2 linked regions of the Homo sapiens genome follow. The protein of the gene in region 2 interacts with the protein of the main gene of each other region in a pairwise test. Each region holds a gene or a part of one and is shown on either strand. Other genes may lie near its edges.

What was found. Proteins that work in one complex are often made in the same cells at the same time.
Region 1: the proteins of NME7 (region 2) and REL interact in binary tests that used the Homo sapiens proteins (3 or more experiments, as listed by UniProt).

Annotation. Positions count from the first base shown.
Region 1 is NC_000002.12:60,877,585-60,884,573, reverse strand, and holds the start of REL (proto-oncogene c-Rel), read right to left. Parts: upstream 3,001-6,989; 5' UTR 2,734-3,000; coding exon 2,724-2,733; intron 1-2,723. UniProt on the Homo sapiens protein: Proto-oncogene that may play a role in differentiation and lymphopoiesis.
Region 2 is NC_000001.11:169,294,782-169,301,876, forward strand, and holds part of NME7 (nucleoside diphosphate kinase homolog 7), read right to left. Parts: intron 3,983-7,095; coding exon 3,775-3,982; intron 1-3,774. UniProt on the Homo sapiens protein: Possesses an intrinsic kinase activity. Displays 3'-5' exonuclease activity with a preference for single-stranded DNA. Does not seem to have nucleoside diphosphate kinase activity.

The sequences.
Region 1 (6,989 bases), on a different chromosome or scaffold from region 2:
AATAGAATAAATATACAAAAGCAACAACTGCCTACTATGCATACCTTAGATGGGTTTGGGAACATTTTTCTTCACTATATCTATTATTAATTATGTCAAAAGACTGTGATCAAGGTGTAATTTTTTTAAAAAGCAACGAAAGGCAGCTTAATACAAGCTGTGAAATCCTAATTAATCTGCTAACTTATCTAAACAAAATTTAGAATCATATTATATACATGATTTTAAACTACATTCTAACTTACATAATTTTGCTTATAAGATTATGATTTATGTTACTTTTACATTATAGCTATCACATATTCAACTACATATACCTATTTACATATGACATCTGGTAAGAAATGAAGAAATGCTCTTAAATACTTCGTAATGAATAAAAGTTACTTTCTGAGGTTTTAATACTACCTTACTACAAACAGAATCTAAACTAGACAATGAAAAACTAAGCAATTTCTTTTTTTTTTTTTTTTTGGTCACTCTTCCGGTTAAATTACTGTTTCAAAACAGAATAGGAATTTAGAATTTTATTAGTGAATCTTTTTCTTTCTCTAAGGTCTTTATAACAGATTAAGGAAAAGTACACAGATTCCTGTAAACATTTTTTTTTTTTTATTCCAGGCCTGGCAGTTTTCTAACAACTGAATTACAATTTAAATAACTTGTTACATTTTAAATAGTCCCATTTTAATGCAACTCTTAGAAAAGACCAAAAAAAAAAAAAAAAAAGTTAATCACCCTTCAACTTCTAAACCTTTAAAACTTTCCATTTCTTTAAACATTTCCTCCTTACTTTTAGGGAATCCTTCCTCCTCACAACAGCACAAAATACAGTGTCAATGAACAAATTTAAATTGTATCAAATTTTAAAATCCTGTGGGTCTTACAATACTCTATATAGAAATGGTTGTTTCCTCTCTCAACTGAAAAAATTAGAAGTATTAAATTCATGCAATATATCAATAAAGTTTGATTAAATCGCCAAGAGCCTGAACTTACTTATAATGCTAGGCATTCTCCATTACTTCCAAACAAAATCTTTCTGATAACCAATACATTAACAAAATATTTGAAGTCATCTTAGCACTTCTAATCTACACATGCTTTGAATTCATAAATTTACACGATTATCTGAAAGTCTGGTGTCACTTAAGTGGGAAAAGGGAAAGTTGAAATATTTTAAACTACACTTAGTATTCTCACAACCACAAACAAACTGAAATCAAATGTCATGTGAAACACCCCAATTTCCTTTTCTGCCTACAGCAATAGCTATGGCATTGTTCTGCTCAACCTTTTAAAAAGGTTCTTTAAGCTTCCTACTTCCTCATCTCTACTAGACATCAGCCTACTTCTGAGGGTCACTGGACCAGGCAGTTTGGGGATAAGAGTCAAGTTCATAAACGGGGCCCCCTCTTCATTCTCTTAGTACAGCATTTAACATGCATTTAGCCCTCCCTGCCTTTGCTCACGCTGCTTCCTCTGTCTGGAAAGTGTCCCCCACTCACCTTGCCAAAATCCTGGTAAAAGACCAACTCGACCCCAGGCTACTTGATTTATCCCCCCGCCCCGGCTCTCCCGTCCCCCTCAACCTTAAGCTCCAGGCAGCCCCAACCACATCTGTGTATATAGGAGACTTTCTTGCTCTGCAATGTTTCTTACAAACTTATTCCCCCCCAAAGGGAGAGATCGAGCATTTATTAAGGGAAAATATATAGTCACATAAGTGATAAAGTTGTATTCATTCCTACTCATTATTTTAAAGCTCGGATATTCTAAAACTCCTCTTTCCCCTTATTTCCAGCGAGGAGGAAGGGGGATTCAACGTCTCTATTCGTCAGATTAGGAACCTTGAGCTTTATCTCACAGTAAAAACTACATTTTTTTTTTTTTTAAATAGAGACAGGGTCTCCCTCTGTCGCCCAGGCTGGAGTGCAGGGGCGCGATCTCGGCTCACTGCAACCTCCACCTCCCAGGTTCAAGCGATTCTCCTGCCTCAGCTTCCCGAGTAGCTGGGATTACAGGCGCGCGCCACCACGCCCCGCTGATTTTTGTATTTTTAGTAGAGACGGGGTTTCACCATGTTTGCCAGGCTGGTCTCAAACTCCTGACCTCTGGTTATCCACCCGCCTCGGCCTCCCAAAGTGCTGGGAATACAGGCATGAGCCACCGCGCCCGGCCTACACTTGGTCGAAGCAACATTAACACTTAAAATACCACGGATTTTCTAATTCGTGTTAAAATACCACGGATGATTTTTAAAGCCGTGACACATTTTGTACAACTGTCAGTACAAGGGGGATCACCTCTTTGCATTTGATGAAATTAAACTAAAAAGGGGGAGAGAGCTTGCCCGAGGTCTGAAGGTTCCTCATTCCTGTTCTAAAACATAAAACCACCATCTTCAATACATATACATTTTTAATGAGAACTCTTCGTCCTCCTTTGGTTCGCTTATGACTTCCCTAATCCTAAAATCAAGTCGTTGGGAATTTCTAAGGTTCCTGCTATGACAACAGGATCGAATTACAGAGCGTGGCTTGGATTCTGCACGCAAACCCTGAAGCAGGTAACTTTTTTAAAAGCTGACAATTTTACCATATGAGATTTTAAAGACAGAACGCGCCCCAGCAAAAACTGAGCTCCCTAAACTCACTGCGGCAGGACCCCCTTCAGAAGAGCTCCTTTCCCCCGGCCCAGGCCCGCGCCCCATGAACACTCACCGGAGGCCATGGCTCCGCTCCCCGCACCTTCCCGCAGGCAGCTCCCAGCGTCCTGGCCGGAGGCGGCCGCAGTCAGTCAGTCAGGAGGCCGAGGGACCTCTGCCGGCGGGGCCCCCAGTCCCCCGACCACCCTAGAGGCCTCCTCCTTCTTCCCGCCCTCCGCTGGGTTTGCGGCTCACACCTTCCCAACCCCTGAATTCTTGCACCCCGGGTCACCCAGCGTCGCCGTCCACCGTACGGGAGCCAGGGGCAGGGGGCGGAGCGGGGAGAGCCGAGTGCTGGCCCAGCCGAGAGGCGAGCAGCCTGGCGGGAGGGGAATTTCCCGCGGCTGACGTAGGCCCGACGCAGCAACCCTCACCCGGAGGCGTGGGCGGGGCGACCTCGCGGCCGCCGCGCGCGCGACCGCCCCCAGCGCCCCGCCCCTGCCTGTCCCCGCGCACGCTCCCCGCCGGCCCCCACGCATACGCCCCCGGCGCTGCTGCGGCGGCTGGCTTGGGAGGGGGTCGAGGGAGCGGGAGCTTGGGGTGGGCTTCGGGAGCGCAGGGAACGGCGGGAGCCGGGAGGTGACGGCTAGCAGCGTGAGAAGGCCGCTGGCTCCTGAGAAATCCCCCTCCTCCAGGTTGTTCTTCCGAGTGTGGTTTAAAGTTCAGGAGCGGGCGGGAGGGTGCGGATGACGTAGAGAGGGCCGGCCGCTGGGGAGCTTTTGGGGGCGCGCGGGGCCGACTCTCCCGGCCTGGGAGGGCGACGGCCGGGGTTTTCGAGAGGTGGTTCCCCCTCTTCCCGACTTCGCACATGCAAATCTCCACCCCCGCGCCAGCGGCGGGACGTTGCGCCCTGTAGGGGGAAGTGGTGCTGCGGCGGGGGTCCTGTCTTCTTCTGTAATTCCTGTATTTGCATACGGGGACCCCCCCCCCGACTGATTTTTTTTCCTCCATCTAAATTGCGAGGGTACTGTGAACTTTACGTATTTTACCTACTGAAACCCGTTTAAACTCAAAAGGTCCGCACTTGGAGTTCGTTGTCTCATTAGGCAGTGCACTGAAGTTTAGTGGACACTATATCCTGAGATTTCACACAGATGCCAAGAAAGGCGGAAATGGAGCACACATTTAGTGCATTAAAGGACCTAGGATAACTTCGTTTCCTTCATTTGAATAGTACCTGCTATGCATCAGATAATGTCCATACTTAATCTATGACGTATTTATTATTCCTAACTTTATAGATGAAGTATTCGGGGTTCAGAGAAGTTACTTCAACATACAGTACTTCAGAATGCTGATAAAAGGCACAGTTTAAAGCCAGGGTTGTCTGACTCCAAAGCTCCATGCCCTTGCCCCTGTCCCTTACTAGTTAAAATTAGTACGGAGAGGTAATGGGGAATATCAGCCTGCCATACAAGTGCCCAAAACTGGGGGACCCATATGGGCAAATAATTTAAAATATCCTGCCAACCCCAAACTGTTCTTTCCACGAAATGCGCAATGTACAACAAAAGAATGAAACAGTTTTATTATTGGATATGTACTAAAACGTACCATGATGCACATCACAGGCAATCCACTGAAGAGAGTGCAAAGACCAAAAAAAAGGAAATCTCACCTTTTCATATGGTCAGGCACGTACAATCCATTACATACCTATTAATTGTCTTTATCCAAAGGAAAATAATGGGAAGTTATCTTGGAACCAAGAGCCAAGGCTTAAACCCTCCTAGAGACAGAAACATGGAGCACCATCCTTGATGTTCACATTTCCAAGAGATGGCTCCGAGGCCCGCAAGAAAGACCTTCTGAGGACGCAAAACTAGCAAGAGGCTTATTTAGCTTTTTAAAATATGTACATACATTTCAAAGAGACGGAAAACATTTTCAGTTCTCTGAAGGAATTTCAAAATGAAAAGTGACTGGGGGAGAGGAAAGTTCTGAGGAGGTGACATTTGAGCTGAGTCCTCAGTTTAAGAAAGAGCCGGCCAGGCGCAGTGGCTCATGCCTGTAATCCCAGCACTTTGGGAGGCTGAGGCAAGTGGATCACGAGGTTGGGAGTTCAAGACCAGTCTGGCCAAGATGGTGAAACCCCGTCTCTACTAAAAATACAAAAATTAGCCAGGCGTGGTGGCGGGCGCCTGTAACCCCAGCTACTCAGGAGGCTGAGGTAGAGAATTGCTTGAACCTGGGAGGCGGAGGTTGCGGTGAGCCGAGATCATGCCACTTGCACTCCAGCCTGGGCGACAGAGCGAGACTCCGTCTCAGAAAAAAAAAAAAAAAAAAAAAAAGGCCATTCACAGGGAGATTCAGGGAAAGAACATTCCAGCTGGGGGAACAGCAGGCAGCAGGTCCTTGAGATAGGAAAGAGCACAGTCAAGAATTGTCCCTCATCCTCATGACCTTCAAACGTCTCATCAAACATTCACTTTCATGTAGTTGAAATGCCTATTTTAATAATATATGGTTAGAACACAACTCCCTTTCATATATAGATATAAAATATTTTTGTATGGTTTTTAATATATACTGAATTTCCCAGGAATGCAAATATTGTATAAATTGAGGGCAGACTTTTATTAAAAAATGTTTTAAAAGTTGGAAAATTGTAACTCTGACAGCTCATCAATACAACACAGTATGCCAGCTGTGGTGGCTCACACCTGTAATCCCAGAACTTTGGGAGGCCGAGGCGGGTGGATTACCTGAGGTCAGGAGTTCAACACCAGCCTGGGCAACATGGTGAAACCCTGTCGCTACTAAAAATACAAAAATTAGCTGGGCGTAGTGGTGTGCTCCTGTAATCCCAGCTACTTGAGAGGCTGAGGCACGAGAATCGCTAGAACTGGGGAGGTGGAGGTTGCAGTGAGCCGAGATCACACCATTGCATTCTAGCCTGGATGACAGAGCAAGACTGTGTCTCAGAAAACAAACAAACAAAAAACCACAGTAGTATCAGGCTGCATTTGCAGCACTTGCATTCACACTGATTCTAGGTACAAGTACAAACATCTGGCAACTTCATTATGTCTTTTTTTTTTTTTTGGAGACAGGGTCTTGCTCTGTCACCAAGGCTGGAATGCACTGGCATGAACACAGCTCACTGCAGCCTCCACCTCCTGGGCTCAAGCTATCCTCCTACCTCATCCTCCCAAACAGCTGGGACTACATGCCCGTGCTACCACACCCAACCCATTATGTCTTTTTTTTTTAAGAGACGGGGTCTTGCTATGTTGCCCAGGCTGGTCTCGAACTCCTGGGCTCAAATGATCTTCCCGCCTCAGCCTCCCAAAGTGCCGGGATTATAGGCATGAGCCACTGCATCTGGCCCCATTATGTCTTTTGATGTAGTTATGCCCAAGCATTTACATACTGTAGTCGATATTATTTTCCTAGAAATTGCTTTCTTTTTAATTCTTGATATTGCTGTTAGAACATAATTTTTATTTATTTGAAAATATTCATGTAAGGTAGATTATGAATTTCACTTCAACCTACTAAAGGGGATGTTACAAATATATGTTATAAAACAGTGGGCACTGATCTGAAAGGGCAGAGAACCTTTAGAACCTTTAGAACTGTTGATGCTAAAGAACTTACCTTAAACATATGAAAAAAAATTTTTTAATGATGCAGCAGTTAAAAAGTCACAATCCTCCAGGAAAGAAACAAATCTGATTAGCAAATGGATGTGTTCTGAGTCTGTGATCGCAGAATATGAAAAAGTAAGAGTGAGGGGTCAAAAGTGAAATTGCTCCATAAGATATTTTTTTGTTGTTGAAAGAACAAGACACCCATCATTAAATTGAATGGATACAGTTAACAACAGTTTCAGAATAAAATCAAACGTTGTGGTCACCATAGGTTCATAGAACTGGAACAAACATATATTATTTTGGCATTCTTGAGCTTTCCCAGGCAGTAACTAAAGGTGACCGAAGTCATCATCCTAGGGGCATGCTAGTATTTGTTTAGGTCTGTTAGTGTGGGGCATGGATAAAATAATGTGTGCTCAGTATCTGCAGTAGTTACAGGCCAAGGCTGAAGCCTAGTGGAGAACAGGGCTCAGAGAAGCCTCTTCAGAGTGTCATCAAGGAGAGTCTTTGTAACCCACTACCCGGATTAAGATACAGAACGCTTCTAGCCAGCCACTCAGAAGGCTGCCTCGGAGCTGCTTCTAGTCAATATCCACCCCCAAAAGGCACCCGATATTCTGACCTCCTTGACAATAATTAGTTGTATCTGTTTTTGAACTTGATATGAATGGATTCATACAGTGTAT
Region 2 (7,095 bases):
ATAAACGAATATGTTTAAGACATTTCTTTAGGTGAAATGGCAATGGTAGCTGCTCTGGATTGGATGTTTGTTCCTTCCAAATCTCACGTTGAAATTTGATCCCCAATGTTGGAGATAGGGCCTAATGGGAGGTTTGGATAGTAGGGGTAAATCCCATGAATAGATTAATGCCCTCCCTCCAAGGTGAGCGAATTTTCCCTCTATTAGTTCCTCTGAAAGCTGGTTGTTAAAAACAGCCTGACACCTCTCCCGGTGGCTTGCTTCTTCTCTTACCATGTGATCTGTGCACACGCAGGCTCCCTTTTACCTTCCACCTCAGGCAGTGGAAGCTGCCTGAGACCCTCACGAGATGCAGATGCCCAATCTTGATGTCCCAGCCATCAGGACTATGAGCCAAATAAACCTTTTTCCTTTATAAATGACCCAGCCTCAGGTATTCCTTCACAGCAACACAAAATGGACTGAGACAGTAGCTAACTTAACAAAAGTTGCTCCACTACAAGATATGCTAAAATCTAACAAGTATATTTATGCTCAAATTTATTAAATAATCTAGTAGAAATAAAAAAGAAATGGATGGCATAAGGTGGTAATAGGGTGAAATAGGCAGGAAATATCAGTAAACATGGTAGTGACTTTCAGTTCAGCCTCAATTATTTCCTTCATTAATTAGATATGTTTATTATTTTTATAATGCTTTAAAATATGATTGGAAATTTAACTATACAAAACAATACCACATTTACAATAAATGTCTACTACTAAGATATGGTCAAAGACTATAATTGCTCTCTTGCATGTATCTTTAACTTCCTTAACACTTCCGTCACATTTGTTTCACAAAACCACAGCCATGGTTAAAAGCCAGCTCTCCACCTACTCCTTACCTTCAGCCATGCAGTTGAACAGGCTGGAGAACCACACTCATAGTTCATGGCCATGAACACTACATGGGCCATTAATTCAGTATAGCAATCACACACCACATTTCCCTGATCTATTCCTTTTCCAGATCACCATTTCACATATTCTTCTCTCCCTTCAGACCAACCAATACCTTATACCTCATCCTCACTTTCAGCTGTTTTGATCTTGCTTCCTACTTAAGAATCAGCATCTGTGTTCACATATTCTCCCTTCCCATCTGTTGCTATAGACGAGTACCTGAGAGGCACACCTGCCTAATCTCTCCACCTGGGTTCTAATTTCCATTTCCTTTTGCCTAATTAATGAAATTGCTCCAACAAGTCTTCCTCTTTTTCCTACATCATCAATTTTTTACCCAATACCTCTCCTCTTAAAAAAAATTGATACTACTTTTCTTGACAGCTACCACCTCATCTCTTTGCAGGAAAACTCCTCAAAAAAACTCCTCAAAAAAAAAGTTGTCTATATTCACTAACTACAATTCCCGTCCCACAATTTTCTTTTAAGTCTACTCCACACAGGGTTTTGCCTCCACCTCCCCATCAACATTCACCTTACAAAGTTCACCAATGATATCCACATTGCAAAATTTAACAATCCATTCTTAGTCCTCTTCTTACTTGCCTTATTTGACACCACTGGTCATTCTCTCATTTTAGAATATTTGATTCACTTGGCCTCCAGGACATAATTATCTCTCAGTTTTTCCTCTTACCTCTCTGGTGGCTCCTCTTCAACCTCCTTTGCTGCCTTCTTCTCCTTACCTTTTATCAAGATGTAGCTTCATCTTTGGTCCTCTTTACTTCTCTATCTATACCTTCTCCTTGGTAATCTCAACCAGTCTCCCGGCTTTAAATACCATTTATGTGCTGATAACTCTAAGCTGTCACACTAATTTTTTTCATCAGTCTAATTGGAAAACTAACAAACAGGTTAAGTTTATAAATGTCCAAAACGTTAACTCCTGATTGTCCATTCATTCTGACTCTAGCCACAGTTTTCCTCATTTCAGTTTACGTAAATTCTATCCTTCTGATAATCAGGCTAAGAACTTTGGAGTAATACTTGGTATCTTTTTCTCATACTCTACATTCAATCTAGCAGAAAATCTTGTTTATTTGACCTTCAACCGTTAATATATATTTTAAAATATATTTGTATACTTCTTTCATTATTACCACCCAGGTCCAAGCCATCATCTCACTGGGTTATTCCAACAGACTCCTGATTAGGCTCCCTGTTGCTGTTTTTGCCCTCTATAGTCATTCTTTTTTTTTTCCCCCGAGATGGAGTCTCACTCTGTCACCCAGGCTAGAGCACAGTGGCATGATCTCAGTTCACTGCAACCTCCACCTCCCTGGTTCAAGCAATTCTCCCACCTTAGCCTCTGGAGTAGCTGGGATTACAGGTGGGCGCCACCACACCCAGCTAATTTTTGTATTTTTAGTAGAAACAGGGTTTTACCATATTGGCCAGGCTGGTCTCGAACTCCTGGCCTCAAATGATCTGCCCGCCTTGGCCTCCCAAAGTGCTGGGATTACAGGTGTGAGCCACCACTCCCAGCCTCTATAGTCATTCTTAATGCAACAGCCAGAATGATCCTTTTAAATGGCAAGTGGAAGATATCAGTCCTTTGTTCAAAACCCTAAAATGGCTCTCTATTTTTTCAGAGAAAAATCTAAAAGTACTACTACGGCCTATAAGACCATATAATCTTTCCCCTAATTACCTCTGTAACCTCATCACCCTCTTCCTCCCTCTCTCATTCCTATCCAACCACACTGTCCTCTTTGCTGTTAGTTGACCATTCCAGACAGAAATATGCTATTCAAGGAATAGCGAGATGGTTAGTGTGCCTGGAACACAATGATTAAGATAGAGATTGATCAAAGATACAGTTAGAGATAGATATGGGCCAGACTAGATAGAGCATTGGAGGCCACAATAAAGACTTTAGATTTTATTCTAGAAGAGACAGAAATTCACTGAAGGGTTTTCAGCAGGTGAATGTTAATCTGATTTGTCTTTAAAAGATCACTGGGCATAGCTGATTTTACTTGGGTAAGGTAAAATTTTCATTAATTGAGTGTAAGAAAAGAGGAAAAAAGAATTTGGAGGCTATTGTAGCAGTTCTGGCAAAATATAATAGTGATTCAGACCACAATGATCAGATTCAGGGTTTATTTTGAAAGAGCTGAAGGGACTTGCTGATGAAATGGTAGGAAAAAGAAAGAAATCAATTATAAAACTGTCTAATATTGTTTCATTGCAAACACAACCAGATTAAAAACTACCTTAAGTGAGACACTTCTCACGATGCTAAAAATAAACTTACACTTCTTTAATTCAACCTCAGTATAAATCCAATAAATGCTTTATTTATATGGATTTAAAAATAAGGAGTAGAGAAACTTTCATAAACACTAGCTATATATAGGAAAATAATAGGATGTTAAGCTTGAAAGCACAGTGTTACGTCTGAATCAAAAGGAAATATCTCAAATTATATCTTCTTTTTAATATCTACTAGCCATAAACTGGTATTCTTACATGAATTCAATAATTCAAACATTTAGGAGCCTCAGTAATTTAAGTCTTGGGAACAAGAAACAGGATGAGAAGTGTTTTAATTGGAGAAAACTTACGTTGATCATGATCAGGTTACCAGTTCACAAAGGAGACACACTGAATCACTGTTTGATAGTAGGCAAGATGTCAAAGGTTTTCTCTACTACTAGAGCAGCAGCATAAATCCACCCTAAGTCACCAGTGATAGAAATGCTTTCCTTTGATATAAAACATTTAACAGAACTAGAAGAGCATTAAAATATTTTTAAAACACCTTACTCTGGCCGCAGAAGCAAAAGAATCAGGGCCATGCGCTGCATTTCTTATGCCATCTGTTCCAAAGAGGGCTCTAATGCTTTCAGAAGCATCTGTGCGTGCCACTCCAGAGTTTGCAGGTCCCAGCAGTCTTTTCCATTCACATATAGCATCATCTCTTAAAATCTCCATGGCAATAATAGGACCAGTTGTAATAAACTGGATCAGCTCACTACAAAACAGATAGAAGATTAGTTTGCTTCTTTTTTCTGTCAACTAGGTATTTGTCTTAACGACAGGATATATTTAAATTGGATTATTTCAACATAGACATGAATATTATAATCTTAGAACCATTAAGCATAGTTAATTTTACATGGGCAGGAGAAATTTTTCATAAATTGAGTGTCTTGCAGTGGCTCAATTCACTTCAAATCACTAGTAATGTCAAATTACTGTTACCAGAAAAATCACTGTTCTGTTGAATTAAGACTATTTCATGACTTAAAATGCATACTGTTGACCTATGCTTTTCCCAGTGCTCTAACAGGTACAGAGGATTTTCCTTTTTATTTACATGTGTTTACCACTGCAGTCAAGTACAATTTCACAATATATAGGGATGGATGCCTTGTAACATATTTTTAGTAAGAATTTATTTATTTTTGTGTAAAACTATTAGAATTCAAAGACTGACAAAGAACTCTCTTAATCAATAAACACTGAGCTGGTTTGGTGATAAAAAAAAAAATCCCCAGCAGGCTTCAAGAAATATCCTTTTATTAGCGTAAAAACTACTCTGGGTTATTTCTGTATTAAATTATTAAAGTGTACGCATCGGTTCTTGACTAAAAATCCAGCACTGAGTCACAGTCCCCCAAGGTATAAAAGACAATACTTCATTTTATTTTCTACTTTTATATGTGTACAGGATGCAATGACAAGTTTAACTATGAAATAAGTGACATCCTCCCTCTGACTATATTAAGCAGGGACACAGTACTTTTTAGAGTAAGCCCATGGTTTTCTCTCATCCAAAGTAGAGAGAAGAGATCCTCCTGGAGAAAGGAGCATGGTGTGACAGGCTCTTTTGTGCCCACTAACTTATGACTATTTTTTACACACTTCCTTCCACCCTGCATGTTATATGTCAGCTCCCCTCAGTACTTCCTTTTTAAAACACTCCCATTCATTTTGAAGAATATTTCTAAAAAACAGCATGTACAAAAAAGTATTCTTGTCTTCTATCCTAAGAGTTCTATAATACCTCCTCATACATTTTCTGCCAGACCTTTGCTGCCAAAACAAACAAAACCCCCAAGACCAACCACTAGATTTAAAAAAACCCAAATCAAAGGAGCAAACCATGTTTATTCACTCAATAAGCATTTAATAATTGCCTATAACATATCAGCGTCTGTGCCACAAAAAAGATCCCCCTTCAAGACACTTACAATCTAACGCCCTATTAATACAAAATTCTCAAAACACACAATTGAATAAGCCTATGAATATGGCATGTAACAATATAGGGAAGGATGTGCCTGATCATAGATACTGCTTCATGAAAATTTAATTACTTCACCTAGTCTTTTGTTACATCATTCTCATTAACAGGCAACTAGTTAATTCATTCCTTTAATAAAATTTACTGCATGCAAATCACACATAAATCATTAGACTAGGAGTTGTAAGTTAATGCTATAAACATATACAAAGTTTATACCAAAAGATAATTTCCACCAATTTTCTAGAAAAGTGTATATAGCTATTCTAAGAAGGCTTAGGAATATTTTATAACACTTGATTTGAAATAATCTATAGCATAATAATTTTCTTACATACAAATTTTTTTAAAAACCCACTACTCAGTGCAGGATATCAAATAACATGTCTACTGTGGCCATTTAGTTTGGCTGATGTAACATTCTTTCTTATTAGAAGTGTAAACAGTCTTTGGCAACAGTAATAATAATATGAGCATGCAAAATATTCACTTAAATTTAATTACATGTCAAATATTTAGAATACATAAAGTGTAACATATATTATCTGTTCTATGTCAAGGAACAAAATATATATCAAACTAGTTAAAATAGAAAGGTTCCATGAACATTGCTTTATGTATACAAGACTACCAAAATAGTTTAAAAGTACAACAGGCTACAGTAACCAAAACATCATGGTACTGGTACAAAAACAGACACATAGATCACTGGAACATAATAGAGAACCCAGAAATAAAGCCACACATCTACAGCCATCTGAACTTTGACAAAGTCAACAAAAATAAGCAATGGAGAAAGGATTCTCTATTCAATAAATGGTGCTGGGATACCTGTCTAGCCATAAGCAGAAGAAAGAAACTGGCCCCTTAACATTAACCATATACAAAACTTTACTCAAGATGGATTAAAGATTTAAAAGTAAGACCTCAAACTATAAGAATCCTAGAAGAAAACCTAGGAAACACCATTCTGGACATTGGCCTGGGGAAAGAATTTATGACTAAGTCCTCAAAAGTAATGGCAACGAAAACAAAAATTGACGAGTGGGACTAAAGAGCTTCTGCACAGAAAGCTTCTGCACTAGCAACAGAGTAAAAAGACAATCCACAGAATGAGAGAAAATATTCACAAACTATGCATTCAACAAAGGACTAATATGCAGAATCTGTAACGACCTTAAATAATCAAACAAGCATGAAACAACCCCACTAAAAAAAGAGCAAAAGACATAAATACACACTTCTCAAAAGAACATACAAGCAGCCAATAAGCATACGAAAAAACGCTCAATATCACTAATCATCGGAGAAATGCAAATCAAAACCACAATGAGATACCATTTCACACCAGTCAGAATGGTTATTATTAAAAAGTCAAAAAATAACATGCTGGCAAGACTATAGAGGAAAGAGAATGCTTATACACGGTTGGTGGGAATATTAATTACTCCAGCCATTGTGGAAAGCAGTGTGGATATTTCTCAAAGAACTTAAAACAGAGCTACCATTTAACCTAGCAATTCCATTACTGGGTATATACCCAAAAGAAAAGAAATTCTGCCAAAAAGACACATGCCCTCATACACTCATTGCTGTGCTATTCACAATAGCAAATACATGGAAATAACTCAAGTGCCCATCAGTGGCAGATTGGATAAAGAAAATGTGGTATATATATATAACACAGAATTCTACACAGCCATAAAAAAATAAAATTATGTCCTTGGCAATAATATGGACACAATTGGAGGCCATAATCCTAAACAAATTAATCCACAAACAGAAAACCAAATGCTGCATGTTCGCACTTACAAGTAGGAGCTAAACATTAAACACAC